7 linked regions of the Homo sapiens genome follow. The protein of the gene in region 6 interacts with the protein of the main gene of each other region in a biochemical or structural test. Each region holds a gene or a part of one and is shown on either strand. Other genes may lie near its edges. The genes, in order: PARK7, UBE2V1, CASK, PICK1, SEPTIN5, PRKN and RNF41.

Region 1 (4,256 bases), on a different chromosome or scaffold from region 6:
TATTGAACAAAATAGCAACAGCAACATGTTTTGATGTTGATGTTTACCAAACCATCCACTCATTCATTCGTTTATTCATTCACTCTTCTGACAAATATTTATTTTATTTTATTTTATTTTTTTTTTGAGACGAAGTCTCGCTCGTGTCCCCCAGGCTGGAGTGCAACGGCACAATCTCGGCTCACTGCAACCTCCGCCTCCCGGGTTCAAGCGATTCTCCTGCCTCAGCCTCCCGAGTAGCTGGGATTACAGGCGCCCGCCACCACGCCTGGCTAATTTCTGTATTTTTAGTAGAGATGGGGTTTCACCATGGTGGCCAGGCTGGTCTTGAACTCCTGACCTCAGGTGATCTGCCCGCCTCAGCCTCCCAAAGTGCTGGGATTACAGGCGTGAGCCACTGCGCCCGGCCCTGACAAATATTTAATGAAGACCTATACAACAAGGAAGGTGCTGGCAAAAATTACAGCATGGGAAAAAACCAAAATGGCAGAACATCATCTGATAGGAAAGCAACAAGAATGGATCTTAAAATGGTTATGAGAAAATAAAATATTACTAAGGTACAAAGAGAAGAGGACATCTGCGAAGCACCAAATGTCCTTGTTCTAAATTATGTGGCAGATAATGCGGTGCCCAAGATCACTCGGTACTGAGACAATCAGAAACGCCCGAGAAGCCAGCGGAAAGCACCATGGGGGCTTCTGAATTTGCAGGGCAAGCACAGGACAGAGCTGCTGTGTTGATGTTTGATGGATTTTGCTGATTGTGTGCTGGCACAAAGACTTTCTGGCACAGAGACTTGCTGTAACAAGCTGTTTACTGAATTCCAGAGGGCCTTATTTTCCTCCGAGGTCAACCAAACACGGAAAACACTAAGTTTCACAGCATGTAGACCAAAGGCATGGAGAGGCAGAAAACAGAACAATTGTCCTCATCTCTGAAATGACACCAACTTCATGCCACCCAAACTAAATACACCAACACAGATGCCCTGCATGCTTTATGAAGGGGAAGAGCTATTTGGAATCAAACCATCGAATGAAAGGCTACCCCACCCACCAATGACGCTGCAACACAGGCTGCCCCTGCACGTCACCTGCACAGATGGCGGCTATCAGGCCCTTCCGGTTTTCCTGCTCCTTCAGTATCTCCTTCACAGCAGCAGACTAGTGAAAAGAAAACCAAAAATACATAAAGTTATCATTAAGCCACTAACCAATCACTCACTAGGAAACTTTGGAAGAATTTAATTTTAGTTTAAACCACAAGCTCTCTGACCTATTTTCCAACAATATTTCTAAATCATTGGTATAAAAATGATCAAAATGTGTCTATATTATATTCTTAAACCCAAGCAAGGCATTTCTCATAAGAGAAACGCACTCTTCCACATTTAAAGATCAGAAGAAGCAATTTGACCCTTGCCATTTTGTACTCCAGGGAGAAAGAAATGGGAGGGAATGTGGTGTTTTGGGTGTTTTCAGATGGCAGAGAGAGGAACAGAATCTAGCAGGAAAAGATCCCTTGTGTCTGACACAACCCACTTCTTACTTCTGGCAGCCCCAACTCTGCCTGCAGGTGTGCCCCTCACCCTGGCCTCTGACTCCTCACATACGACTTAAAATGAGGAACAATGGTCTCTGCTGATGGCATTTGCCATTCCTGCTGGCAGCCCTAGCCCCACAGCTTCCCCCAGTTAAGACTTTGAGTAGACAATTTGCCCTTCTCAAAACACAAAATCTGATCATTCTTCTGCTGGTGGAAAAAAACCAAATCATCTTACTTTGGACTGTATTCATCGACATCTGTTCATAACGGTCCCACCAATTCAGCTTACTTCCATGGCAACATTTTTTTTTTCTGATAAGACAGGTTCTTGCTTTGTTGCCCAGGCTAGAATGCAGTGGTGCATTCACAGCTCACTGCAGCCTCAAATCCCTGGCCTCAAGTCATCCTCCCACCATAGCCTCCCGAGTAGCTGGGACTACAAGTGTGCACCACCGTGCCCAGCTAATTAAAAGAAAATTTTTTGTAGAGATGGCGTCTCGATGTGTTACTTAGGCTGGTCTCAAACTCCTGGCCTCAAGCAATCCTCCTGTCTCAGCCTCCCAAACCACTGGGATTATAGACGTTGAGCCACTGCACCTGACCTCCATAGAAAATATTAAAAATGTTTTCTTGAGGTCGGGAGTGGTGGCTCACGCCTATAATTCCAGCACTTTGGGAGGCCGAGGTGGGCGGATCACGAGGTCAGGAGTTTGAGACCAGACTGGCCAACATGGTGAAACCCCGTCTCTAATAAAAATATAAAAATTAGCAGGGCATGGGGGTGCATGCCTGCAATCCCAGCTACTCAGAGGCTGAGGCAGGAGAACTGCTTGAACCCAGGAGGCGGAGATTGCAGTGAGCCGAGATTGTGCCACTGCACTCCAGCCTGGGCCACAGAGCAAGACTCTGTCTCAAAAAAAAAAAAAAGTTTGAGTTAATGCTATAACACCATTTTGTTAATTTTAGTTGTTTCTATTTTTTTTTCACAGCCTCCTCCCGAAATATTTGAATAATAACAAAATTAACAGAACATAAGCAGATGCTGAAATTCTTTAGTTTTTCCCCCCCCCCAGCTTTATTGAGGTATAATTGAGTAGAATTTTTTACCTCAGATAAATTCTGTGCGCCCAGATTACCTCCTGGTAGAACCACCACATCATATGGTCCCTGTAACAGTTTAAAACATAAAGAAAACAAAAACATTTCATTTCAACTGTGCATTAAATTGACAGTCCAATAATACTTTCCTATTTTAAATGTGGGAAGTACAGGAGATAGCCTATCTGCCAATAGAACAGTTAAATAAATTAAGGTGTATCCACATGACGGAATGGTGTTTTAACTAGCAAAAAATGCAGAAAACCTGTATGTAGTGACATGCAAGGATGTCCACGCTGCAGAGTAGCAGGGGTAGTATAATCTCCTTCCTGTAAAAGACAAGGATATATGTATTTGTGTGTAGATGTATGCGTGTATGTGTACAATCACCACAAGCACCCCACCCCACATATTCTGTATACAGGTAGTCACAGACAAAGGAAGACACTCTAGTTGCTAATGGGAGTAGTGTGGGATGGGGCAGAGGGAGAATGAGAACAGGACATTTAACATTTTGACTTTATATGTGTCTATATTGTTTGAATTATTGTTCAACAAGAATGTACATGAACAACTTAAAAAATTAATAGAAAAACAGGCTGGGCACACTGGCTCATGTCTGTAATCCCAGCACTTTGGGAGGCCAAGGCAGGAAGATTACCTGAGCTCAGGAGTTCGAGACCAGCCTGGCCAACATGGCAAAACCCCCATTTCTACTAAAAATATGAAAATTAGCTGGGTGTGGTGGTGCACACCTGTGGTCCCATCTACTTGGGGGGTTGAGGCAGGAGAATCGCTTGAACCTAGGAGGCAGAGGCTGCAGTGAGCTGAGGCTGCACCACCGCACTCTAGCCTGGGCAACAGAGCAAGACTCTGTCTAAAAAAACAAATAAAATTAATAGAGAAACAAATTTTAAGTAAAAGGCACAAAAAATTTTTCTTAACTTTATGAAAAATGTAACGGGGGGAGAATTTTAGTATCCCCCCCAAAAAATCCTAGAAATCAAATTAATTTCAAACTTCCTGAAATTACAAAACGGAAATTGTTTTAACAATACTTTAGGACTTTTTATTTATTTATTTATTTTTCTTTTCTTTTTTTTTTTTTTTTGAGACAGAGTCTTGCTCTGTCACCCAGGTTAGAGTGCAGTGATCTCAGCTCACTGCAACTTCCGTCTCCCGGATTCAAGCGATTCTCCTGCCTCAGCCTCCCAAGCAACTGGGATTACAGGTACCCACCACTGTGCCCGGCTAATCTGTGTATTTTTAGTAAAGATGGGGTTTCACCCTCTTGACCAGGCTGGTCTCAAACTCCTGACCTCGTGATACACCCATCTCGGCCTCCCAAAGTGCTGGGATTACAGGCGTGAACCACTGTGGCCGGCCAACAATACTTTAGTACTTTAAAAAGTGGTTAAAAAAAATCTAGTCATTAAACAAATTACAAAATAAAAATGTATTATGTATTTAGTGCAACCTATAAAATTTTTTTAGAGAGAAGCCCTCACCTCTGTCACCCAGGCTAGAGTGCAGTGATGCAATCGTGGCTCACTACAGCCTTGAACTCCTGGGCTCAAGCAACTCTCCCACTTCAGCCTCTGCAGGAGCTA
Region 2 (4,256 bases), on a different chromosome or scaffold from region 6:
TCACTGCTTTCAGCATTTGGCTACACCACCTTCCCACTTCCTTTGGTTCTGCAATGTGTGATATCTACATATGTCTTAGAGGGTGGAACTGTGAAAAGCCCACCACAGATCCTCAGAATCCCCATGTTATGACGGGTGACTTCCTCCTGCCTTGGCCAGGATTGCAGCACATCAAATAGTGGCCCTTGGTTGCCAGGCCCTTCCTCTCACTCAGCAGCCCACGAGCTTCCCTGACATTTAATCAGAAAATGAGTGCCAGAGGGGTAAGCCCTGGTGGGGCATGATTTTAAATTTGCATACATCGGAGTGGCCTCATATGCACATTCAGCTTATAAAAACTTAACCATGTGGGCAGCAGAGATTAGTCTTCCCTTCCATTCAAGAGTCTTCCCCAGAGAGAGCTGGAAATGGATGAAAACTCACAGTCCCTTAGTTCTTCTCAGTTCCTGTATGTCTCACTGTGTGAGCATCTTATGCCAATTGTAATTAAGTGCCTTTTGTACAACATGGGCCCTACATTCAAAGAACAGCTTCATATTGTGCTCAGCCAAAGAAATAGCAGCCTGCTCCAGTGATGGAGGGGAAACTGGCTTTGTTGGGCTAGTGCAAGCTTTTTTTTTTTTTTTTTTTTTGAGACGGAGTTTCGCCCTGTCACCTGGCTGGAGTGCAGTGGCGTGATCTTGGCTCACTGTAACCTCTGCTTCCCAGGTTCAAGCGATTCTCCTGCCTCAGCCTCCTGAGTAGCTGGGATCACAGGCACGCGCCACCACGCCTGGCTAATTTTTGTATTTTTAGTAGAGACAGGGTTTCACCATGTTGGTCAGTCTGGTCTCAAACTCCTGACCTCATGATCCGCCCGTCTCAGCCTCCCAAAGTCCTGGGATTACAGGCGTAAGTCACCGTGCCGGGCTGCAAGCTATTATTTTCTTAAGGGATTACCAAGGTTAATTTTGATGATCATGATTTTCCCCCTTCATGTTAACTGAAAACCACTCTATTTCCCCCACCACATTCTCTTTTCTCTTCATATCTCTATCCCTCCCACCTCCCCACAAATTGTAGCTCTGCAGTAATTTGGTAAAAGTAGAATACAAAATATGAAGTCAGGAATCCTCTGCTTAATTTTGAAGGGGCACAGTGAAGTTCAGAGCAGCACATTTGGCAAAGTAAATGTTTGAATACTATTACTGTTGTATTGTGGATAGTGCTTTAGAGTGTCCCATAGACTTCGACTTACCTGTGATGTTGTCTCATCTAACTCTCCACAGCCTGGTCACCAGCCAGGGGCAGTATCCACCCACATTACTGAGGGAGGAGCCAAAAGCCAAGGGAGACTGGTGATGCTCGGACTAGAGCCCAGGCATTTTTAACTCCTGTTCCCTCACCAGCCTGCAGGAAATGGAAAAGGCATGGATTTAGGGATATGTTCTTCCTAAGTCTTGGAGTGTTTAATCTTGGAGAGAGAAAGGGCTTTAGTAAGAAGTGTCTACTGCTACCCGTTTCAGGAACCCTTTTTATAGCATCTCTGGCCACTGTTTGTCCTCTTCTGGGTTATGTGCTGTCCAAGGAGAGTGAGGTCCTTTTTTCAGGAAGCTCTTGCTTATATTTTATACTGAATGACTCACACCTCTTGGGCTTGGAGCCCCATCATGGCAGGTACAAAGTAGTACCTCATCCTTATTTACATGCAAGCCATCAGACTTCTTTTTAAGTTGCACTCTTGGGTTTACTAAGTGCTAGACACTGTATTAACTACATTATCTCACTTGTCACAACAGCCCATTGAGGCAGGTATCGATTGTGAAGGTGAGGAAACAGGCCAGGAGAGGAGTGACTAGCCTGAGGTGCAGAGCCTGGGTGCTCTGGGATGGTGTTGCTTCAGGACACGTGCTCTTGGCCGGATGATCGTTCTTCCAGCCCCCATTTCTTATTCTCTGAGGTAGGCCTCGCAAGCATCTTCAGCCATTGGCATGTCTGTTATTTCTGCCTTGGCTGATTAGCTTATTCATGGGTAGATGGCAGTGACCTCTCAAGTAGTAGTCTTTCCTCATCTTCACATCCACCCTGTCACAAGTCCAGTAGGTGTAACCCCAAACTAAATGCCAAATCCTCCTTTCTGTCTCCACTCTTGTCATCCTAATCTAACCAGAACCGTCTTTCTCTTGCCTGGAAGATGGAAAAAGCCTCTTGCTTTCAGTCTTGCCCTTTCCATTTTCTATACAGGAGACAGAATGATCTTTCACAGACGTAAAATAGAAACTGCCACTCCCCTTCAGCAAGCCCTTCCCACTGCTCTTATTACAGAATAACCCATCCCTTTTCCATGGCCCACAAGGCCCTGCCGCCTTGACTTCATGTGGTGTCACACACCTCTGATCTTGCTCTGTCCCCAGATCTTCATGGGCCTGACTGCTGTTCTTCAGGTCGCAGCTACCCAGAAAGGCCGTCCCTGAGCACTCCATTCAATAGTTTTTTAGTCATTGTCACAGCTTCTTGTTTTGTTCTGTTTCTCTAAAGCACTTAACCTTACCTGAAGTGTTGTTTCGTTGCATATTTTCTATGCCTTTTCACTAGGGCAAGATTCTATCTCAACTTCTGTTGTGTCCCTAGCACCAGCACAGTTCTGGACAAAATAGTAGGTACTCAGTAAATATTTGTGAATGTTGCAGTGAGTTAATTCAGAATCTCTTTGATGTAGCCAAATGGATACATTTGACAATTTGTGGAGAAACAATGTATCCGATAGGGCAGAAGCAAAAGTGGCTATTCAGCCTTTCAAAAAACTGAAACTCTTATCCTTATTTGGTGGTATTTATAGAGGTACTTGATCGTAGAATTAACCATCCTCCCCTTCTCCAGTTGTCCTGACTCATTTCCCACATCTTGTTTCCCCCTTTGTCAAAGAAAATCTGATGCTTGGTCTTGGTCACTGACCCTAGCAGCAGAACACAGGGTCTTGCATTCTGTCACTAGCTGTTGTCACGTGGCTGGACTGTAAAGAATGACAGCTTGCTACTAATTCTTTCCCTAGAATTCCCCTAGAGCAATGGATCTCAAACTAGTATACCTCAGAGTCCTGGAGGGCTTGTCAGATTCTTAGGCCCAACCTTGGAGTTTCAGATTCAGGAATTCTGGGCTGAAGACCTGAGAATGTACATTTCTAGCGAGTTTGCGATGAGGTCTGGGGACTAACTTGGAGAACCATTGCTCTAGAGAAGGAGAAGAACAGATCTCCTGGGCAGGCTAACTAGACAGCCAGACTACACTTGGGCGGTTGCTCAGAAATAAAAGTTACTTGCTTATGGCTCTATGTCCAGTTTTCAGGGACGTTGAATCCCAGTGCATCACCTTCCATACCTCCTCATTTTCTGAAGTGGGAGCAGCATCAGATTCCTAGCTCAGTTCACTGTCTTCCCTGAATGGGCAACCAAACCATTTTTAACTAGCAGCTTTCTTTTCAGGAGAAACCTCTGAGGTTCTACCTTTTTTTTGTTTTTTTTTTTTTGTTGTTGTTGTTGTTGTTGTTGTTGTTGTTTTTGGTTTTGAAACAGAGTTTCACTCTTGTTGCCCAGGCTGGAGTGCAATGGTGCTATCTTGGCTCACCGCAACCTCTGCCTCCCAGGTTCAGGTTCAAGTGATTCTCCTGCCTCAGCCCCCTGAGTAGCTCGATTACAGGCATGCGCCACCACGCCCAGCTAATTTTGTATTTTTAGTGGAGACGGGGTTTCTCCATCTTGGTCAGGCTGTTCTCGAACTCCCGACCTCAGGTGATCCACCCATCTCTGCCTCCCAAAGTGTTGGGATTACAGGTGTGAGCCACCACGCCCAGCCAGCTCTACCATTTTAATTCAAGACCTAGGCCAGGGTTTTCCAAGATTGACATGCTGTGGTAGCTGCTGCTTGGTGGCCATGATTTTCCCAAAAGATGTTTTAAACGACTTCAGAATCCTTTTTGTACCACAAATATATTAATATGTTGCTGTGTTTCAGATTACTGCATTAAATGTTTTACTGTGGCATGGTGTAAAGCTCTATCAAATATTCATGCTTTTTCAACCTGGTTGCCATATTTTCTTTGTAATATCCTGCAACTGCTGTCTTTTCAGTTTATATTTAGCTAAGAGAATAACCGGCTGACTTTTGATACTGACACAGGTCCAGGAAAAAGCCTTCTGGAAAGAATAATTCTGAAATAATAGGAACAAATATTTTCTTCAAAAAGTCTTGGATTACTGTGATATTTTAGCACCTTGATG
Region 3 (4,256 bases), on a different chromosome or scaffold from region 6:
TCTCTGTCACCCAGGGCCCCAATTTCCTGGAAGAATTGCTCAGTCTCTTGATTTTAGATTTAATACTTGTAAAACCCTATAATGACTGGCACTAGTCAGACAAGTGCTTGTTCTTTTGACAGCATTTATTAAGCACTTACTATGTGTAAGGCACTATGCCTAATGCTGGGGCACAGCAATTACAGGGCACACAAGACAAGTTTATGCCCTAGCTGGAGACATAGCCACTAATCAAATAAAGAGGTATTTCGTTATCTCTATGTATATTTAAGACTCAGCCCAAGAGCTCACCCACCTAGTGTTTGGCAGGTAGGGGGTGGTTAATTTGACTCACAAAGTTCCCTAGTGTCAAGGTTGAACTTGCCCTTTGGGAGTTCAGCATGACAAATATGACTTGCGAAGATATAGAGGCAGACTTCTTTCTGGTGGCTCTTAAGAGACCCCTGTCTTGAAAGAACTGCCACTCTGTAGCAGAAGCTATACTTGCATGACAAAGCTGGGACCCTAAACTCCCTCCTCCTGTTGGATCCCTCTTACAAGAGTTCTTAAAATCTGTGGCAAGCTGCAGCTTAGGGAACATCCTTTGTTGCAGCAAACCTCCCTAGAGTTCAGTACTCCCTAGAGTTCTCTTCCTTCTGTTTTTTTCATAAGAGATATGAGGACCTACGAACAGTGACATTTGTCTAGCCACTTCTAATGCAGACCAATTTGGGGGGATTCATCAGATGCCAGGTGCTGTTTATTGGGGAAACAGCCTTATTCCAGCCATTATTTGTAACACTCAAAGATCTTTTGCCTCTGGCATCAGCTGCTATTGAGTGAGGGCCATTATATGTAATTGAATTCCTAGAACGTGTGGCACCTTTAAGTAGAAGAGGAAAAAATACAACTTAATTTGTCATCCAAGGGCAGGGACTTGTTGGTGCAAACACAGCTGGGCCCTGAGGCCTGGCTCCAGTGAGTGTGGAGGACCAAGGGGACGGGGGCAAAGAGCTCCAGCCTTGCCACCGTAGCCCTCTCGCCAATTGGGAGAGTGGCTTGAGGCTAGGGCGGGGGGCTTCCTGCTGGCCTGTTTGGGCCACCATAGCCACTGTAACCCACACCTGGCATGGCCCTACCAAGCCTGACTCTGGGGACAGGCACAGCTAGGCCTGAGTGGGGGTGGCATGTTTCCTGAAGAGTATCTGTTTTCTCTGGTTCGTCTGCTTTGTCATGGACCCTCTGTTGCATGTTGAGCAATCACTGTCTCCTCTGTCATGGAGCGGACTTGGCCTCATGCTGGCATATGGCATATCAGGGTCTGGCCTTGACTGTTTCTGACACTGGGATGAACAAAAATGTGAAAAGAGAACGAATCCAACTGATTTCTCTCTTCTGTTTGCTTTTCCCTCCTCTCATGCCCACCCCTACCTCCATCTCATCACCATTTAGGATGAATCTCTTCAGCGTCTGCAGAAGGAGTCTGACATCTTACAGAGAACATATGCACACTACTTCGATCTCACAATTATCAACAATGAAATTGATGAGACAATCAGACATCTGGAGGAAGCTGTTGAGCTCGTGTGCACAGCCCCACAGTGGGTCCCTGTCTCCTGGGTCTATTAGGCCTCTCCCCAGATATCTGAGCATAACTGGGAGCACCTCATTTGTGGAAAAGCCTCTTTGTTATCGGCCTTGTGTCAGCAGGTCATGGTCCCTAGAGACTACCTAGTTGTAGTGTGACCTACATTTATAATTATTGTCATGTCCGAATAGATAGGAGGAGAAAAACAATTACACACTAATTTAAAGAGACAGTATCTTTTTTAATCAGTTCTCCTAAACTTTAATAAAATGTATCTTTAAATGTATGTATTATTCAATCCTTTGGAATGTTATATTTTTGGAAATCATAGCTTTTTATTTCCAAGGCCCCTAAAAACTGCACAAAATAGATGCTGCTTTCTATAATCTATTTTAATAATAATAAACAATGATTCTGTTACCTTGACTGGGGGTGGAACACTACATTCTTTTTAGAGTCTGATTTTATGGATTGGAATATTGGGATATCTTTCTTTCCTTTATTTATTTGAAATAATTAGTGTAGTGATTACAAAACAGTCATAAATTTTTAAAGGCCTTTTTTCTCTCTTTTTTTTTTTTTAGAATAGTATTTTTTTTTAAGTCCTTTATGTAACATCCAGATAATGTGATACTGTCTCTTTGAAGCACCCTGTAAACCTTTTAGAGATTTGAAGTTGGGTCTTGACTCTTAATGCATGTGGACAGTCGCGAGCGTTTATGCTGTCGGTGTGTCTGTGTTGGACAAAACAATCTGTAATCTACAGCAAAGTACATTCTACATTCCGTTCATGGGGCACACCCAGGGGAATAAGAATAAAATGCTATTATGACTAAGTTGTAAACCTATGCACATCCCTTGCATTTTGGGCAACTTTATAAAAAAAAAGAAACTGATTTTTATTAATAATAATCATGTAGTGAAATGTGTTTGTAATTTTGTCTCAATTTAATTTGTTGTAAGGTGGGGTGGGGGGAATTGCTGGTTTCACCATTTCAGATCTGTGTTGTCTAAGAGTATTAACGTTTTAATTAAGCAAAGAAATGATTTTTAATCTGTATGTAATTGTTTTAAAGCACCCATTTTAAGAGAAAATACTGTGCAATGAAGAAACCAGTTTAGGCATTTGCTATAAACTGAAATATTCCAAAAGAATCATCTATAACAGCCCTGTAAATTCCTTTAAAATGATAACTAACAGGACAGTTTGACCAATTTTTTTTAAATATACTTCCTTTTATGTGTTCAATAATTAAATGCCTTTGGGTCCTTCATTTCATTATAGATTTGTTCAGGCTTCCAAGCTGATAATCTTTACAATTGTATAATTTGTTAGATGCTCATTGAACCTTTGAAGGCCCAGGAGTGAGTATCAGTTGGCAGGGTGACAAAGTAGCCTGCCAGAGCACAGCTGGACCACGTCTGACTCGCACAGAGCCATGCGCCCAAGGGCCACGGGTGTACTGGAGGCCACCTGTGGTCTCTCCTTCCTCTTGCTGTATCCCTTGGCACAGGGGAATCATCTGTCCTTGTTGCTTTAGAGACATTAACCATCTCATAACTCTTCCATGAAGTCACATTCTTCCAATACAGGAGATTCGGGCTGGGGTTCTCAGACTCTTTGCCAGAGGTCAGTAGAATGTTTTTCATTAGCATGTGAGGGTGTGAAGTGCTTATATTAACCTGTGATCCTTGAAAACATACCATCATTTTTTGCTTCTTGTAGGTTAGATGGCCTTGTCACTTTGTGCCTTGGCAGGATGTGCAGGGTGTGTTCTGAGCTGAACAGCTCCTCTTAAAGGACCAAACAGAGAAGGCATTAGTATACTTCTTTTACATTGTCAACACCATACCCGCCTCCGCCCCCCACCGCCTATTATTAAATGGTGGCGATTTTTTTTTTTCTGATGTTGTTCTTTGCCAGTGACCAGATGAGTCTGCAACTTACTAACAAGGTATTGAGTGAACTACTTCTGTATGGGCCCCACAGTGGGGTGACCAAGCCACCAAACCAGAGATAAGCTCAACAGTGGTCTCACACTAGATAGAGAGAGAAACCTTCAAAGAGTTGGGTAGGGCTGTGTTAGAACTGATTCGAATCTGATAGATGCCAAGGCCAGACAGTCGTTCCTGGTATGGTACTGACCACAATTTCGGGCTCTTAGTGTGAAGGTGCGCACTCTACCTCTTTTCTGGTGAAGCACAAAGACAACTACAACTAACACATGGGAAACAGAAACTTCCCTCCCTCTAGTGGAAACCCCCACGCCCCCACTTGCCCTTTGAGCCCACATCTCCAGAGATGCTGATGATGCCTGTCTTAAGCCATCTGCCATATTTATAAAGGTGGATTAAGCAGAGGAGGAGAAAAGCAATGCCAACTTAAATGTCTGTGGCCCCACAATTCACAAGCACTGTAGCACTCATCCTCAGTGGCTTTATACGTCCTCTGAGAAGCACACAGGCAGGCATCATTCTTGCCATCATTCCGATGGTGAAATCCCTGCATGCAGAACTCATTGACTTCTCAAAGATGTTACCTGTTCCATTCCACTAATACATGTCTTCTCTAAAGCAGTGTCTTTATGACCTAGCTGCATATACTTACATTTCTGAATTCAGAGTAATTTCAGTACATTGCTGCTGCTGCTGCTGCTGCTGCTGCTGCTGCTGCTGCTGCTGCTGCTGC
Region 4 (4,256 bases), on a different chromosome or scaffold from region 6:
CACTGTGTGGCTCATCCAAGTCAGTGACCTTGCTGTAGCCTTGGGAATACCTGTTCTAACCCTCTCACTGGTGGCAGATGGGAAACTGGCCTCTGTGAGGATCTTGCTCAGGAGTCGCTTGTAGGCCTCGAAGACAGATTCCCAGGATCGACCTGGTCTTGCTTCTGCTCACAGTGCTGCCTCCTTCATGAGCCATTCGGCCTCCTGTGACCCAGGAGGCATTAGCAAGACCTCCCCCAGGCCTGGCCTCCTGGCCGTGTGTCTGCTCAGCCTCTCGCCACCTCCCTCTACCTACCTCAGGTGCAAGTTTGCTTAGAATGAACAGACATCATAAAATAGTATAATTGATTTTTTTTTTTTTTTGAGACAGAGTCTCACTGTGTTGCCCAGGCTGGAGTGCAGTGGCGTGATCTCAGCTCACTGCAACCTCTGCCTCCTGGATTCAAACGATTCTCATGCCTCAGCCTCCCGAGTAGCTGGTATTACAGGTGTGCGCCATCATGCCCAGCTAATTTTCGTATTTGTAGGAGAGAGAGGTTTTAGCTATGTTGGCCGGCCTGGTCTCGAACTCCTGGCCTCAAGCGATCCACCCACCTCAGCCTCCCAAAGTGCTAGGATTACAGGCATGAACCACCAGCCAATAAAATAATAGAACTGGCCGGGTGCGGTGGCTCACACCTGTAATCCCAGCACTTTGGGAGGCTGAGGTGGGCAGATCACCTGAGGTGAAAACTTCCAGACAAGCTTGGCCAACATGGTGAAACCCTGTCTCTACTAAAATACAAAAATTAGCCAGGCATGATGGCGGGTTCCTGTAATCCCAGCTACTTGGGAGGCTGAGACAGGAGAATCGCTTGAACCCGGGAGATGGTGGTTGCAGTAAGCCGAGATCGTGCCATTGCACTCCAGCCTGGGCAGTTGAGTGAGACTCCGTCTCAAAAATAATAATAATCATCATCATCATAGAATTGATTTTTTTAAATTCAATTTTGTTTTTATCAAAGTGCCATATGACTTGCCTCTACCAAGTCAAGAGCATTAAAAGCCCTGTATCAAATAATAGCAATCCACTGCCCTTCCCCTGGGCACCTCACCCGGCTTTCTCTGTCTCTTCATGCATGGGCTTCCATTTTTCTCAATAGTCTCACTCTGTCGCCCAGGCTGGAGTGCAGTGGTGCAAGCATGGGTCACTGCAGCCTTGATTTCCCCAGACTCAGATGATTCTCCCACTTGAGCCTCCAAGTAGCTGGGATTACAGGCACGTGCCACCAAACCTGGCTAATTTTTGTGTATTTTTTGTAGAGACGGTGTTTTGCCATGTTGCCCAGGCTTGTCTCAAACTCTTGGGTTCAAGTGATCCACCCGCCTCAGCCTCCCAAAGTGCTGGGATTACAGGCGTGAGCCACCGTGCTCAGCCTATCCTGTTGTTTCTTGATCTATCACCTGTAAATATCTATTGACTTTGCCTCGTCTGGTAGATGAGAATTTAGTTCTTCCCATGACCAGTCTGTTTCCTCTCATCCCACCTTTCCAACATAGTTATTTTTCTATTTTTGGCTAAATTAATATTAGTACAACGGAGATTTTGTTCGGGAAATCTTTTCCAGATGCCTCCTAGGCTCTGTTGTAGGCACTAGGGATAAAAGAATAAGAAAGCAAAGATCCTACTCTTGCGGAGCCCTCATTCTAGTCAAAACAACTCTATGTTTAACTTTCTGAGGAATCTATGTTTCTTTTCTTAATTCAGCCTGTTCTTGTGTTTTGAGAGGGTGGGGGTAATTTCCTGTTTTGTTTTTTTCATTTGCACTCTCCTTGTTTTCTCAGTATGTTTTCCACAATTTCCCATCTTTTTTTTTTTTTTTTTAAATTAAGTCTTGCTCTGTTGCCAGGCTGGAGTGCAATGGCGTGATCTTGGCTCACTGCAACCTCCAGCCCCCGGGTTCAAGTGATTCCCCTGCCTCAGCCTCCGAAGTAGCTGGGATTACAGGCACGTGCCACCACGCCTGGCTAATTCTTGTATTTTTAGTAGAGACGGGGTTTCACCATGTTGGTCAGGCTGGTCTCGAACTCCTGACTTCAAGTGATCCACCTGCCTCGACCTCCCAAAGTGCTGGGATTACAGGCGTGAGCCACCATGCCCGGCCCCATTTTCTTCAGTCTGTTTTCCGCCCTGTAGTCTCTCCCCCTTGTGCCCTCCCCCTGCCCCTGCCCCTTCTCTTTGGATTCCCCCATCTTGGGGGTCCCTTTCCTGGTTTACTCCCTGATCTCCCGTGGAGAATATCCTCCTGTAGCTTTCTGAGAAAGGGCACGTGGGATGTCAATTTTTTGAGACCTCGGGTCTGTCTTTTTTGGTCATTGTGGTTCCCATATTCCTTTCAGTTGACATTTTGGCTCATTCGATTCAAGAATGAACGTCAAGGTTGACAGTAATTCCTGTGTGGAAGTGTGATGGCCTTGTCACATTGTCCTTTGCTGTCACATGGCTATTGCCATTCTTATTGGTGATCCTTTATTTGTGATGTGTTTTATTTCTGATCTGTGAGAACTTTGAGGACTTTGTTTTTGTCCCTGGTGTTGGGAGGAGTCGTGATGGTAGCTGCAGGCACAGGCTTTTGTTTATTGTGCCAGATCCTCAGAGGGCGTCATCGGGAACACCATGTCCTTCTTGTCATGTATCTCGATGATGACATCCTGCTTTCTGTATTCTCTGTTCTGCTTTTTTCTATTTTTTTATTGTGGTAAAATTTACCATCTTAACTTTTTTTTTTTTTGAGACAGGATCTTGCTCTGTCGCCCAGGCTGGAGTGCAGGGGTGCGATCATGGCTCACTGCAGCCTCAACCTCCTGGGCTCAAGCGATCCTCCCACCTCAGACCCCCGAGTAGCTGGGACTACAGGCACGCGCCACCATGCCTGGCTCATTTTTGTATTTTTTTTGTAGAGACAGAGTTTTGCCATATTGCCCAGGCGATCTTCCCACCTCGGTTTCCCAAAATGCTGGGATTACAGGTGCGCACCACCGTGCCCAGCCCTTGGTCTATTTTTGAATTAGGTTGTTTGGTTTTTGTTGTTGAGTTTTAAGAATTCTCTACAAAGCACAATCGGCTAAGAGGAAAAAAAGAAAAAAGAGTTTTAGGAATTCTGCATATATTCTGGATATTAATCCCTTATCAAAAATGTGATTTGCAAATATTTTCTCCCATTCTGTGGGTTGCCTTTCTTTTCTTCTCTTCTCTGTTCTTTTTTTTTTTTTTTTTCGAGACAGTGTCTCACTCTGTTGCCCAAGCTGGAGTACAGTGACGGGATCTCAGCTCACTGCAGCCTCTGTTTCCCAGGCTCAAGCGATCCTCCCACCTCAGCCTCCCAAGTAGCTGGGACTACAGGCGTACACCACCATGCCCAGCTAATTTTCGTGTTTTTTGTAGAGACAAGGTTTTGCCACATTGCCCAGACTGGATGGTGTATTTTGATGCACCAGTTTTAAAATTTTTATGAAGTTCAATTTGTTTATTTTTTGTTACTTGGATCTTAGGTGTCACATCCAAGAAATTACTGTAAACTCCAATGTCGTGAAGGTTTTGGACTAGGCATTTTTCTGAGTTTTATAGTTTTAACTTTTACATTTAGGTCTTTGAACAATTTTGAGTTAATTATTATTATTATTATTATCTTCGAGACAGAGTCTCGTTCTGTTGCTCAGGCTGGAGTGCAGTGACATGATCTCGGCTTACTACAACCTCCACTTCCCAGGTTCAAGCGATTCTCCTGCCTCAGCCTTCTGAGTAGCTGGGACTGCAGGCGCCTGCCACCATGCCCAGCTAATTTTTGTATTTTTAGTAGAGATGGGGTTTCGCCATGTTGGCCAGGTTACTCTCGAATTCCTGACCTCAGGTGATCTGCCTGCCTTGGCCTCCCAGAGTGTTGGAATTACAGGTGTGAGCCACTGCGCCTGGCCTTGAGTTAATTTTTGTATGTGGTGTTAAGTAGTGTCAACTTCATTTTTCACATACCATTGTTGAAATGACTGTCCTTCCCCATTGAATGTTCTTGACACCCTTGTCAAAAATCATTTGATGCCGCCGGGCACGGTGGCTCACACCTGTAATCCCAGCACTTTGGGAGGCCAAAGCAGGTGGATCACCTGAGGTCGGGAGTTTGAGACCAGCCTGACCAACATGGAGAAACCCTGTCTCTACTAAAGATACGAAATTAGCCGGGCGTGGTAGCGCATGCCTGTAACCCCAGCTACTCGGGAGG
Region 5 (3,914 bases), on a different chromosome or scaffold from region 6:
TGCACCTCTGGATCTGGGCAAGTGCTCCATACCTGCCAAGCACCACACGGGGCCCACATGACCCACCCCAGCCAGGCAAAGACATGGTGACCTTTACCTTCTAGCCCTGGATGAAGGGGGTACAGGTCCTCTACTCCTAGAACAAATGACTCTTGCACCCAACTGGGCTGACCTGGCCCTCCTCCAGCAGGCTCAATGTGAAGGAGACAAAGCCCTCTGGTTCTGCCCCTCACCAGCTCCATCCCCCCTGCCCCACCAGTCTGCATGTTCACCTTCAGTTCCCGGTCCTGCTGCTTGAAGTCCTCATCCTCGTCCGAGTCACACTCAGGGAACTGGTATACATGGATCCCAAACTTGTCAATCTCCTCCCGGATCTGTGGTGGGGCAAGGACCATCAGATTTGAGGCCAGACAAGTCCCCCTGGTACTCTCAGCCCCAGGGCCCTGGCCAGGCCCCTGTGCGACGGCAGGCTCACCCGCTCCTTCAGCTTCCGGATCTCACTGGGGACAAGACAGTCAGCTTTGGCGATGAGAGGCACGATGTTGACCTTCTCATGCAATGCCTTCATGAAACCCACATCCACTGGCCGCAGCCTGCCGAGAGCAGCCAAGGGTGGGCATAGGCACAGCCAGGGGGCCATATTGTAGGGGCTGCACTCCCGAGCCTGGCCCCAGGACAGCCACACACCCATGCCCGAAGGGGGAGATGAAGTATAGGCAGCAGTGCACTCGGTTGTCTTGGATGTTCTTTCGGTTGAGGCCGCTCTCATCACGGAAGTACTGCTCAAACTGCTGGTCCACATAGTCGGTGATGGGCTTCCAGCTGTGGGCAGGAGGGAGGTGAGGCCAGGCCTCGAGTGCTGTGGCCGCCTAGGCAAGGCCTTTCTCAGCAGGCCTCACTCACCACTCGGTGTTGTTGACAGCGTCCCCGAATCCCGGCGTGTCCACGATGGTGAGCTTCAGCTTGACTCCCTTCTCCTCAATGTCCACCGTGTGTTTTAGAATCTCTACCGTCTGGCTGATGCGCTCTACGGGGAAGGGGCCACTGGAAGGGCCTCTCCAACCCTCAGCCCCTCACCCTTGGCAGCCAGGACCCTCGTCCTCATCCATCTTGGTGCCTTGGCCCTACCCCCAGGGGACCCACACCGCGAGAACAGAACAGTGGGAGCTGGACCTGAAAGGGAGTCCTTGGAGAGGTCCCATGGAAGGGGACTGGGGATCAGTGCCAGGGCCTCCTGGGGGCCACTCACCCTCAGCACTGAGCAGCTTCCGGTCCTTGTACAAGTCTGTCAGGAAGAGGCTGTGGACCAGTGTGGACTTCCCCAGGCCTGACTCACCTGCACACAGGTACAGAGAAGGAGCTGCGTTAGGTCTGGGGCTCCAACGACAGAGCTTGGCTGGCCAGTGACCCCAGCCACTCCCCCGAGGAGCCTGGCCCACTCACCAGCCACCATGAGTGTGAAGTCAAAGCCTTTCTTCACCGACTTGCGGTGCACCTGGTTGGGCAGTGTGGCGAAGCCCACGTACTGCTTGTCAATGTCCTGGGGACAGGATGGAACAGGGTAGGGACACAAAGGTTTCTCCAGAAGCCCAATACCCTGTCTCTTACCAAATGCGGTATGAGGAGACAGCAGAGGGTACGGTTCCCAGGGTGGGGCATTTCGTTGGCAAAAATAAGGGGAGGGCCCGTGGGCAAAAGCCTGGAGATAAGAAGGCAGGCGAGGTGGTGGCAGGAGAAGGCACCCCTGGCCCCAATCCCAGGGAGGGCTCTGCAGGGACCGACACTGTATTTATTCCGTGGGGAGATGTCAGGCCGCAGCAGGCACAGGCGATGTCCTCCCTCCTCGGGCAGAGGGCAGCAGGATTGGGACCCCTGGGACACACTCAAGGCCCTCCATAAGCCGGAGAAGCTGGGGGCCTCGACACTCACCCCTCCGGAGAGTGCCAGGGGGCGGGAGGCCCCACCTGGCCCGGATCCAGCCGCGGGGGCGGCGGCAGCGGCGGTGGCGGAGCAGCGCCTATTTATAGACCGCGGCGCCGAGCCTCCCCCGCCCGCGCGCCCAGGCGCCCAGCCCCCGCAGACCCTTGGGGCCCCTGGAGGGGTCCCACGGCCGCATTCTCCGCCGCGTTTTGGAGTCGCGTGAGGTGAGGCCTGGACAGGGCACGTCGCCCCACCGTGGGGCCGCGGACCTGCGAGGCCGCTGCGGAGGGAAGGGCTGAGCCTAGGCGCTGGCGGGCCGTGGCGCGCGGGGACGGGGACCCCATGCCGAGTCCCGGAGCCCGCGGGGTCACAGACCCACGTTCCGCCCTCTCCACACACGCACCTTGAGCCGCCTCTGGGCCTGGGTCCGCGGCGACAGCAGCTGCTCCACCAGGCGGTCCTGGGGCGCTGCCAGCGAGTCCATCGCGGCGACCCCCCCAGGCCCGGGGGCACGCTCGGACCCCAGGCCCGGTCAGGCCGCCAGAGCCCGGCGACAGCGAGGGACCTTGGCGCGGCTCTGCCTTAGGCTGCGTTGTCCACCCCGTTTTGCGGACGCGGGAAGTGAGGCCTGGACAGGGCACGTCGCCTACCCGGGGGATCGTCGACCCCCGAGGCCGACCGAGCCATCCCCCTGACTGGGCGAACTGGCCCCAAGCTGTGGCGGCGTCGCAGTCCGGGCAGGCCCCGCTCCCGCACCCGAGCCAGAGGCGGGGCGTCGCAGGCGCCCGCGGAGCGCGCGGCGGGGGGCGGCAGAGACGGCCCCGCCCGCCGTCGCCGGGAAACGGTCGCCTGGAAATTGGGCCGCGGGCGGAGCCACCCGAAAGCGGCTGCGGAGGGCAGGGCTGAGCCGAGGCGCGGTCGGGCCATGGCTCGCGTGGACCGGGAGCCCTGCCGCGCCCCCGGGGCCTCAGTCCGGGCTCCAGGACAGCAGGAGGGGACGACCGGGTCCTGCACGCGGGCCGGGGCGGGCCGGGAGTCGGTAGCCACCGCGCGTCCCGCCCCCAAGAGGTGCTGCGCGGCTTCCGCCCGCCAGAGGGCGCCGGAGGCCGCTCCCGGGACCCACGCGCAACAGCGCGGGTACCCGCCCAGTTCAGGGCCCGCCGTCTTCTCGCAGACTTGCCCGAAAACCTCCCGGCGGCGTCTCGACGCCCCAAGTGCCCACAGACACGCCGCGCCCTGCACCCCTCCCCAGCCCTGCTTGGGGCTGACCTCCCCCGTGCGTGCGTGCGTGCGTGCGCGCGTTTGTGTGTGCGCGTCCGTGCGGGTGTGTGTGTGTAATGTGTGTGTGTGTAATGCCTGCGTGTGTGCGCGTGTATACATGCGTGTATGCGTGTGTGTGTACGTGTGTGCATGCATTGGGTATGTGCGTGTGCGCGGGTGTGTGCATGTGTGTTTGGTGGACTCTTTCCCAAGACATTCGGGGGACCGGAGGAGGGCAGAGCCCACCTTTTCTGAAGTCCAGCCTGCCTGTCCCCTAGGAGGCTTAGGGTGGACAGAAGGGAAGGGAAGGGAAAGGAAGGGTGCAGGCTGCCGGAGTACTGGAGGTCCCTGCAAAACTTGGAAGCCCCCGCCAGCCTGCTGAATAAACGCCGGCCACCCATGCGCTGCCCTGCAGCCCTCAGGTGGCCCTGCCCTCAGAGACAGGGGTGGGGGTGGGATGGGACCCATCTCCCACGTGCTTCTGTGGACATTCCCTTGCCCTCTGAGCATCCTCACCAGCTCTGACCCACAGGATTGGAGGGACTGGGAGCTCCTGCCAGCCGGGCCTCCCTCCCATGTGGCTACTCCAGGGACTGCGGGGGTCTCCCGAGCTCCGCTCTGTGGGCCACCCACCTCCATGACCCCAGTAGAATCCCAACAGGCAAGCCCAGCGGAGCAGGACATGGGGCCTGGAAAGGTTCCAGGGTAGGACTGGTCAGGCCAAGCCCCTGCAC
Region 6 (4,256 bases):
AGGAGTTAACTAGGTGAAGGCGGCCTTCTAGACAGGCATGGAGGGGAGAGAAGAGAATAGAATGAAAGGTATCTGGTGAGGCTGCAGGCACACCAGATAAGCTTTGTCAAGGAGGTAGGTTTAAAGTTGGCGATAGGGAGGAGTCACTGAACCATTATCTACAAAAGAGCATTATGAACAGGTTGTATTTTAGAAAGATGTCTGTGGCAGTACTAGAAAGTTATGAAATAGAACGTTGTAGAAAATAGTTACACTAGTGCCAGCAAGTCCAGATAAAGTGTTAATAGAGGACTTCTCATGACCTTCATTGTACTTCTTAGATAAAACAGAATACTTGAAATCACTAGTTACGGAGAACAAGCGTTTATAAACTCACTCCATAAAACAAAGGAAAGAAGTCCAGATAATGTTTAATAGAGGACAGTCTTCGACTGAGAATGGCAGGGTAATTGTGCAGTAGGAGATGGCTTTTCTCAGGGTGTTGACATTGATTTGATATGTCATTACATCATCTCTGATTAAAGGCCATATTTCTTTTTAAAAAGTTCTTATTTTTGTAGAATAGATTAATGTCTCTTATTGACAGGTGTTTTATTTCATGTTACTAAAGCTTTATTTGTATTCCAAAAATAGTTTGTATCTCCTTCTTTGATATGTGGAACATGATGCTTAGGGTTCTATTTATAGTTTCTTCTCTGTGTGGAGAGAACAATGTCATCAGAGCTGTGGATATCGTGTCACCCAGAATAGTGCAGAATAGTTTCTTCCTCTTAGATATCTGCATGACTCATATACCTAGGCACATATTAAGACCATCTATGGGCCGGGCGCGGTGGCTCACGCCTGTAATCCCAGCACCTTGGGAGGCCGAGGCGGGTGGATCATGAGGTCAGGAGATCGAGACCATCCTGGCTAACAAGGTGAAACCCCGTCTCTACTAAAAATACAAAAAATTAGCCGGGCGCGGTGGCGGGCGCCTGTAGTCCCAGCTACTCGGGAGGCTGAGGCAGGAGAATGGCGTGAACCCGGGAAGCGGAGCTTGCAGTGAGCCGAGATTGCGCCACTGCAGTCCGCAGTCCGGCCTGGGCGACAGAGCGAGACTCCGTCTCAAAAAAAAAAAAAAAAAAAAAAAGACCATCTATGGACAGATGTGTGTATTTTTAAGAGTATTGATGGCTTCTTGATGATTCTCTCCAATTTACTTTTACTGTAAGACCTGAACAGAGGCCCCCATAAAGTTTCACATGAGAGCCCTTAACTTTGGAGGAGAGAATGTTCAATAGTTAGCAGCCTCACCCATTTTGCACATCTCTACTCCTACCCTCATCAAATGAGGGGGAAAATTGGTGATTAGGGAGTTAATATTGGTGTCCTGATTGAGACTTTTTATTATTTATTTACATAATTGTTGAATACGCCAGTTACTCCTATTGTGAGATATTTTTGGAGTTTCAGTGCATAAATAAGATCTTGTGATGAAGCCCTCTGTAACTGCGTAGTCATTTTTAAAGCTTATTGTACCCGCAGAGTAGATCCATTTTCCAGATCATGAAATGATAGGAAGTAGACACCTGAAACTTGCTCGTATTAATAAAATGGAGAAATAGGAAGGAACATTTGTAATATCTGTGTTTCTGAGGTCAACCTTTAGTTTTTTTTTTTTTTTTTTTTTTTTTGACATCTACCTGCACTCCCTCTTTTCTGTCCCCTCATTTTTTTCTTACCCACATTCCTTGATTTTCTCAGAAGCTGGAATTTAATATTTCATTCTTCAGCTCAAAGGAGCAGCTGTTGTCTGAACAACAGGTGAATTTCTTCCTTACTTGTTGCCACAGGGCTTGACTGTGGGTTGTAATGTTTCTGAGGGTTATCACAGGAGTGGCCTGACCGGAACAGACCAGGCTTCACCACAGCTCCTACTGGAGACATTCCCTAGATTGGGAATTGTCTGCAATGGAAATCTTTGTAGTCTCTGGCTCTGCATTTTCCTTCCAGGCAAATCCAGTCCTGATTACAATTTTTTTTTTCCATTGAAACAAAATTGAGGAATGATGAACTCTGGGCAGCTAGAGGATGGGGGCAAGTTAGGTTTGCTCCTTGGAGAATTAGACAGATTTAAGAATAATATTCCCTGTGCCCTGGGTCTTCTCTCCACCCTTGAAATTCGACCTCCTTTCTCCTGAAAGTCCTTTATAGCTCTCTGGTGAGTTCCCAGAGTGTGAGAGGTACAGATTTAAGCACAAGTGAGGTCATGTTCTCTGAGGTGCTGCTTCTCTGGGCTCCTGACCACAGACAAATGTAGACTGCATGATCCAGTTGATATTCACCAAATTTGTATAATTACATGTGACAATATATAAAGACGTTTTTACATGAATATGTCTGAATTCATAGGATCAGATGGGAAGTATATGTGTTTTATTGGGCAGTCAATTTAGACATAATCATATGATACAGAGAGTGATATTTCGTAGAGATCTGTTGTGGGCTTTCCACTCTTGTTCATTTAGGAATCTGTGAGATGCTCAACCTATGATTGGAATTGGAATTTCTTCCTTTTGTCCCTCTCTAGAGTTTTCTCCATTATTCATTGTCCCTTTCTCGTGTGTGTGTGTGTGTATGTGTGTGTGGCATCTGCCGTGTCTCACTACATGCAGAGCTTCTGACATAGGTATTGACTTTTATATCATCTTGATTTCAAAGAAGTCACCAAATAATCTTATTCTCAGTGTCTTGAGTTTTATACCAAGTCTCTGTGCTTGTTTTTTATGTTCTGGCAATTTCTGGGCATTGTTGCCCATTTTAGAACTCTATTTTGTTTTGTGGGGGACAGTTCTGGAATAAATTTTTTTTTTTTTGAGACGGAGTCTTGCTGTGTTGCCCAGGCTGGAGTGCAGTGGCGTGATCGCGGCTCACTGTAAGCTCCGCCTCCCAGGTTCACGCCATTCTCCTGCCTCAGCCTCCCGAGTAGCTGGGACTACAGGCGCCTGCCACCATGCCCAGCTAATTTTTTTTGTATTTTTAGTATAGACGGGGTATCACCGTGTTAGTCAGGATGGTCTCGATCTCCTGACCTCGTGATCCACCTGTCTCGGCCTCCCAAAGTGCTGAGATTACAGGCATGAGCCACCGCGCCTGGCCTCTGGAATAATTTTTAATGGAGATTCAACATCTAAGAAACTTTCATATTGGATCAAGACATAGTTGTCACAATTCTTAGTGTGTAAATTCATTAAAAGTCCCTTCTGGCTTTTGCAGCCAATTTAATCATCTTATGCTTAATAGAATGCAAGTTATACAGGTAAAGTCAGTCAGAGAGGGGATGGGGATGCTATTTGAGATGAAGTTCCTAGAAGTAATAAGATTTTTTTTGTCTTAAAACAGTGATGATAGGATGATTAAGTGATCTAAGATGGACAAATATGTGTGAGTTCTTAATAATTGGGAAAGATCTTTTTTAAAAAGTGTTAATGTGACCATTTAGTTACCATAACTGGAAACTAGATAGCATTAGGGGCCATTTGTATATGTAAAAATATCAGGAAGTATACCGGCAAATTATATCTTTGGGTTGTGGGATGTTTTCTTTTATTATGATTGTGTTTTTCAGATCTTCAGCGTTAAGCGTATAATGTTTTGGAAATACTGAAAAGCAATGTGTTATAAACACAATCTTCAGGACAAATGCATTGTGGTAATACATTTAAAACGGATTCTACTTTTGTGTCAAATTATGTCAGATAAATTTTCAATGGTAGCATACTATGCTCATGTTCTGGTCATAAAAGTAGTGTTTTCAGGAAAACAAACATTAGAACCATAATTTCACTTTCTTTAATATTATACACTATCGGGGCATGGCCAGATTACTGTATTAGTTTTTGTGTAGTTCCTGTTGTTGCTGTAACGAATTACCACAAGTTTAGTGACTTTTAAACACAAATTTATTTTCTTACAGTTCTGGAGGCCCAAAGTCCAAAATGACTTTTTTTTTTTTTTTTTTTTGAGACAAGATCTCCCTCTGTCACTCAGACTGGAGTGCAGTGGCACAAACACAGCTCACTGCAACCTTGAATTCCTGGGCTCAACTTCCCGAATAGCTGGGACTATAGGTGCATGCCAACCTGCCTGGCTAATTTTTTTATTTTTTATTTTTTGTAGAGACAGGATCTTGCTATGTTGCCCAGACTAGTCTTGAACTCTTGGGCTCAAGTCATCTTCCCACCTCAGTCTCCCAAAGTTGTCAGATTACAGGT
Region 7 (4,816 bases), on a different chromosome or scaffold from region 6:
CTGTATTTTTTTTGTAGAGACAGTTTCGCCATGTTTCCCAGGCTGGTCTCGGACTCATGACCTCAAGGGATCCGCCCACCTCGTCCTCCCAAAGTGCTAGGATTACAGGCGTGAGCCGCTGCACCTGGCCATACTACTCTTCCCCGCCCCGCCCCACCGCTCCACCCCGGCAAAGGAGTCTTGCTCTGTCGCCCAGGTTGGAGTGCAGTGGCGCGATCTCGGCTCACTGCAATGCAACCTCTGCCTCCCGGGTTCAAGCGATTCTCCTGTCTCAGCCTCCCGAGTAGCTGGGATTACAGGCGCCCGCCACCACGCCCGGCTACTTTTTTTGTATTTTTAGTAGAGACGGGGTTTCACCACGTTGGCCAGCCTGGGCTCAAACTCCTGACCTCGTGATCCACCAGCCTCGGTCTCCCAAAGTGTTGGGATTAAAGGCATGAACCACCGCGCCCGGCCATACTACTCTTATCTTACTTATCTCAGAGTCCCGCTAGAAGACAGCAGAAAGGAGGCCTGAAACTTTAGTTCCTTTTGGGACCTGTCAAATTGTCCACAAAAGGTAGCTAGCTCTGTATTGTTGTGTATAAACAAATTACATAAAGATATGTGTGTATGTGTGTATTAATGTGCATTAGCATTTGCTTAGCCAATGTCCACAATAAATACCATACTATTTAATACCAGATTAGTCTAGGAAGTCATGTGATTGTAATGCCTTGGTTTGCTTAATTAATCCCTTATCTGCTCACGGAGCTCTTTAGGCTCCACATTGACTTCCCTTGGATCCCACGTTCTCTACCGCCCACATCCCCAACACCACGGTGTTGTAAGCTAAGGAAATCAAACCCCAACTCAGGAAGAGGGAAATTTTTTCTCCCTTCCTTCCTCTTAGGTGTTTCAGGGAACTCCACAAGTGTTCGGGGAGCCATCGTGGATACGGCAGGAGAGCGCCTGGGAGAGAGGCAGACAACCCGTTGAGCACCCCAGATCTAAGCTTTGCGGTCAGACTCCCTCACTCCCCACCCCGCGGCCGCCTTGTTAACTGCAATATCCATTCCCATGACAGGAGTCAAGGGGTTACGAAGCTCTGGGATGCTGACCAGGGCTCTGGAAAAGGGAGAGGGGCCGGACCCGCAGCAGGTCACGCTGCAGGCCTGCCTCTCCGCAATGATCTCGCAACAATCTGCGTCAGCTCTAAGACACAAGTCACCTGCACCCCTCCAAAGCGAAGCGTGGCCGGCCAGGCCCACACGTTTTTGCCGGGAAGAACATAGAGTTCTCCCTCCTAAATGGCTACATAGTCCTGGCTGGGACCATATAGACTCTAGACTAGACTTCCTGTCTAGAGTGGAGGCCTGGCCAGCCTTCGTCCCTCCTCGTAGGCAGCTCCTGGCTGCTGGTGTAGGGGCTGAGTTAAACAAAGAGGCGGGGTTTGGTGACGAGCTTCCGCCGGGTTGCGTAGCAGCGGTGGGCGGGGCAAAGGATCCGTCTGAGGCGGCGACGAGTGGTAGGAGTCTTCTTTCCCCTCCTTCCCCTTTCCCTTCCCTTCCCGGGAGAGGCTGGGACCCGGCACCAGGGCAGTACTGTGGCCGCTGCGGCCTCAGCTCCGACTGGGTCAGGTTGCGGAGACTCCAGGCCGCTTCCAGGGCGGTGCGTACTGCGCCTGCGCGATCTTCCACCTAAAAGAGGGTGTGGGAGGGGAGGAGGTGATGTCCCAGGGGTATTGGGGCGGGGGGTTGAAATAACTGGGGTTCAGGAGGAGGGATGGTGGTAGAGATAAAAATGTGAGAAGGGAGCAGCACTGGCGAGGAGTCGGGAGGTGAGAAGGGGGCTCTGGAGAACGGGTTGTTGGGGAAGGTCCATTGGAATAGGGGAGCTTTGAGAAGTGCGGGAGGGGGCCGGGGCTAGCTGGAGGACCGGCACCTGCAGAACTGGGGGAACAGCGTGGTGTTTAAATGGGCAATGATTGACGGGCCAGAAGGGGAGGAAGGGAGCATTCCGGGGGCCAGCCTGGGCAGGGGCGGTGGAACCTAAACCCCCGCCCTCGAAGCGCCATAGCTTGGCTCCTCTCCCATGCCTTGTCGTTGGCAGCCTTGTCCTCTCATTCCTTCCCCGCTCCTCACCCCCTCCCAGCCCTCCATGAAGGAATCTCACATTCTTCACATCCCTGCGCTTGGTTTGCAGCCTGGCTCTCTGGCAGGGTTCACACACCACACACTGGAAGGCCTTCCCTAACTCAGGACTTTGGGAAATTGGGTAGTGGGGAGGAGGGGGCTAGAGGAAGAGCAGAAAGCCAGGAGGGGTGAAGGCGTTTTGCTTGAGGGATTGACAGACTGCTTCCCCGTTCAGAAACTTCATTTCATTTAATAGCAAGTGGGGCTGTTATTGAGGCCACTGTTCTTGGGGACTGGCCCGTGATAGTGTTATCCCTTTCTATACAGGGGTTTTAGAGTCTGACAATAGGGCAAGAGACTGATAGTGTTGTTGGCTGATAGTTTTGCCCCAAATAAGAATGTAGTGGACTAGTGGTAGGGAATGTGAGTGATGCAATGTTAAGCCGACCGACCTGTGGCTAGCCCTGCCTTCTAGTAAAAAGAAGGAACAAGCTTTTGTCAAGCATTTCCTCTCCGACTCTCAGTACTCTAAATTTATTTTGCATTCTTGTTTTTTTTTTTTTTTGAAACGGAGTCTCACTCTGTCACCCACGCTGGAGTGCAGTGGCACAATCTCGGCTCAGTGCCACCTCTTTCTGGGTTCAAGCGATTCTCCTGCCTCAGCCTCTTGAATAGCTGGGATTACAGGTACCTGCCACCATGCCTGGCTAATTTTTTGTATTTTTAGTTGAGATGGGGTTTCACCATGTTGGCCAGGCTGGTCTCAAACCTCTGACTGTAGCCGGGCGCGGTGGCTCACGCCTGTAATCCTAGCACTTTGGGAGGACGAGGCGGGCGGATTGCCTGAGCTCAAAAGTTCGAGACCAGCCTGGGCAACACAGTGAAACCCCGTCTCTACTAAAAATATAAAAAATTAGCCGGGGCATGGCTGCATGCACCTGTAGTCCCAGCTACTTGGGAAGCTGAGGCAGGAGAATTGCTTGAACCCAGGAGGCAGAGGTTGCAGTGAGCTGAGATTCCACCACTGAACTCCAACCTGGGCAACAGAGTGAGACTCTGTCTCCCCACACCCCCCGCCAAAAAAAACAAAACAAAACCCTGACCTCAGGTGATTGGTCCATCTCGGCTTCCCAAAGTGCTAGGATTACAGGCATGAGCCACTGCACCCAGCCTTATTTTGTATTCTGTTGCTACAAATAATCTTACTTGAGGATAACAGTATTCAGTATCCTTTCATATTTATTTATTTATTTATTTATTTATTTATTTATTTATTTTTGAGACAGGGTCTCACTCTGTCACCCAGGCCGGAGTGCGGTGCTGCGATCTCTGCTCACTGCAACCTCTGCCTCCTCGGCTCAGTTGACCTTCCCCCTTCAGCCTCCTCAGTAGCCGGGACTACAGGCACTCACGCCATCATGCCCGGCTAATTTTTGTATTTTTTGTAGAGACAAGGTTTCACTATGTTGCCCAGGCTGGTCTCAAACTCTTGGACTCAGGTGATCCACTCACTTCGGCCTCCCAAAGTGCTGGGATTACGGGTGTGAGCCACTGCGTCCAGCCTCCTTTCGTATTTATTATTTCATTTGATTTGCAGACAGTATGTATAAGGGGTGCGCGCGTGTATATACACATATATACACACACACACATATATACACCTTATATTACGCCGGGCGCAGTGGCTCACGCCTGTAATCCCAGCACTTTGGGAGGCCAAAGGTGGTGGATCATATGAGGCCAGTTTGAGACCAGCCTGGCCAACATGTTGAAACCCTGTCTCTACTAAAATATAAAAATTGGCTGGGCGCGGTGGCTCACGCCTGTAATCCCAGCACTTTGGGAGGCCGAGGCAGGCAGATCACGAGGTCAGGAGATCAAGATCATCCTGGCTAACGTGGTGAAACCCTGTCTCTACTAAAAATAAAAAAAAAAAATTAGCTGGGCGTCCTGGCGGGCGCCTGTAGTCCCAGCTACTTGGGAGGCTGGGGCAGGAGAATGGTGTGAACCTGGGAGGCGGAACTTGTAGTGAGCCGAGATCGCATCACTGCACTCCAGCCTGGGTGACAGAGCCAGACTCCGTCTCAAAAAAAAAATAAATAAATAAATAAATAAAATAAAAATTAGCCTGGCATGGTGACACATGCCTGTGATCCCAGCTACTCAGGAGGCTGAGGCAGGAGAATTGTTTGAACCTGGGAAGTGGAGGTTGGAGTGAGCTGAGGAGATTGCATCACTGCACTCCATCCTGAGCGACAGAGGAAGACTCCATCTCAAAAAAAAAAAGAAAAATAGGCCAAGCATGGTGGCTCACGCCTATAATCCCAGCACTTTGGGAGGCCGAGGCGGGCGGATCACAAGGTCAGGAGATTGAGACCATCCTGGCCAACATGGTGAAACCCCGTCTCTACTAAAAATACAAAAATTAGCTCAGCATGGTGGCACATGCCTGTAGTCCCAGCTACTTGGGAGGATGAGGCAGGAGAATCGCTTGAACCCGGGAGGCAGAGGTTGCAGTGAGCCAAGATCGTGCCACTGTACTCCAGCCTGGCGACAGAGCAACACTTTGTCTCAAAAAAAAAATAACATATATATATATAATAAATATGTATATATTATATATACCTTATATTAATATATAAGGCAGGTATCATTTTCCCTACTTGACAGTTGAAGCAACAGAAAAACTACAGCAGGGTTAC

What was found.
Region 1: the proteins of PRKN (region 6) and PARK7 form a complex in vitro, tested with the Homo sapiens proteins (2 studies listed by BioGRID, with this or other methods).
Region 2: the proteins of PRKN (region 6) and UBE2V1 form a complex in vitro, tested with the Homo sapiens proteins (4 studies listed by BioGRID).
Region 3: the proteins of PRKN (region 6) and CASK form a complex in vitro, tested with the Homo sapiens proteins (2 studies listed by BioGRID and IntAct, with this or other methods).
Region 4: the proteins of PRKN (region 6) and PICK1 form a complex in vitro, tested with the Homo sapiens proteins (3 studies listed by BioGRID and IntAct, with this or other methods).
Region 5: of the proteins of PRKN (region 6) and SEPTIN5, one has a biochemical effect on the other in vitro, tested with the Homo sapiens proteins (2 studies listed by BioGRID).
Region 7: the proteins of PRKN (region 6) and RNF41 form a complex in vitro, tested with the Homo sapiens proteins (2 studies listed by BioGRID, with this or other methods).

What each region holds. Positions count from the first base shown.
Region 1 is NC_000001.11:7,967,804-7,972,059, reverse strand, and holds part of PARK7 (Parkinson disease protein 7), read right to left. Parts: intron 2,716-4,256; coding exon 2,656-2,715; intron 1,167-2,655; coding exon 1,097-1,166; intron 1-1,096. UniProt on the Homo sapiens protein: Multifunctional protein with controversial molecular function which plays an important role in cell protection against oxidative stress and cell death acting as oxidative stress sensor and redox-sensitive chaperone and protease.
Region 2 is NC_000020.11:50,106,124-50,110,379, reverse strand, and holds part of UBE2V1 (ubiquitin-conjugating enzyme E2 variant 1), read left to right. Parts: intron 1-1,268; exon of another isoform or gene 1,269-1,407; intron 1,408-4,256. UniProt on the Homo sapiens protein: Has no ubiquitin ligase activity on its own. The UBE2V1-UBE2N heterodimer catalyzes the synthesis of non-canonical poly-ubiquitin chains that are linked through Lys-63.
Region 3 is NC_000023.11:41,517,772-41,522,027, reverse strand, and holds part of CASK (peripheral plasma membrane protein CASK), read left to right. Parts: intron 1-1,431; coding exon 1,432-1,608; 3' UTR 1,609-4,256. UniProt on the Homo sapiens protein: Multidomain scaffolding Mg(2+)-independent protein kinase that catalyzes the phosphotransfer from ATP to proteins such as NRXN1, and plays a role in synaptic transmembrane protein anchoring and ion channel trafficking.
Region 4 is NC_000022.11:38,060,404-38,064,659, forward strand, and holds part of PICK1 (PRKCA-binding protein), read left to right. Parts: intron 1-4,256. UniProt on the Homo sapiens protein: Probable adapter protein that bind to and organize the subcellular localization of a variety of membrane proteins containing some PDZ recognition sequence.
Region 5 is NC_000022.11:19,717,228-19,721,141, reverse strand, and holds part of SEPTIN5 (septin-5), read right to left. Parts: exon of another isoform or gene 2,405-3,914; coding exon of another isoform or gene 2,324-2,404; intron 1,541-2,323; coding exon 1,444-1,540; intron 1,337-1,443; coding exon 1,250-1,336; intron 1,028-1,249; coding exon 904-1,027; intron 823-903; coding exon 688-822; intron 594-687; coding exon 476-593; intron 375-475; coding exon 273-374; intron 1-272. UniProt on the Homo sapiens protein: Filament-forming cytoskeletal GTPase. May play a role in cytokinesis. May play a role in platelet secretion.
Region 6 is NC_000006.12:162,717,315-162,721,570, reverse strand, and holds part of PRKN (E3 ubiquitin-protein ligase parkin), read left to right. Parts: intron 1-4,256. UniProt on the Homo sapiens protein: Functions within a multiprotein E3 ubiquitin ligase complex, catalyzing the covalent attachment of ubiquitin moieties onto substrate proteins. Substrates include SYT11 and VDAC1.
Region 7 is NC_000012.12:56,218,594-56,223,409, reverse strand, and holds the start of RNF41 (E3 ubiquitin-protein ligase NRDP1), read left to right. Parts: upstream 1-1,487; 5' UTR 1,488-1,650; intron 1,651-1,708; exon of another isoform or gene 1,709-1,819; intron 1,820-4,816. UniProt on the Homo sapiens protein: Acts as E3 ubiquitin-protein ligase and regulates the degradation of target proteins. Polyubiquitinates MYD88. Negatively regulates MYD88-dependent production of pro-inflammatory cytokines.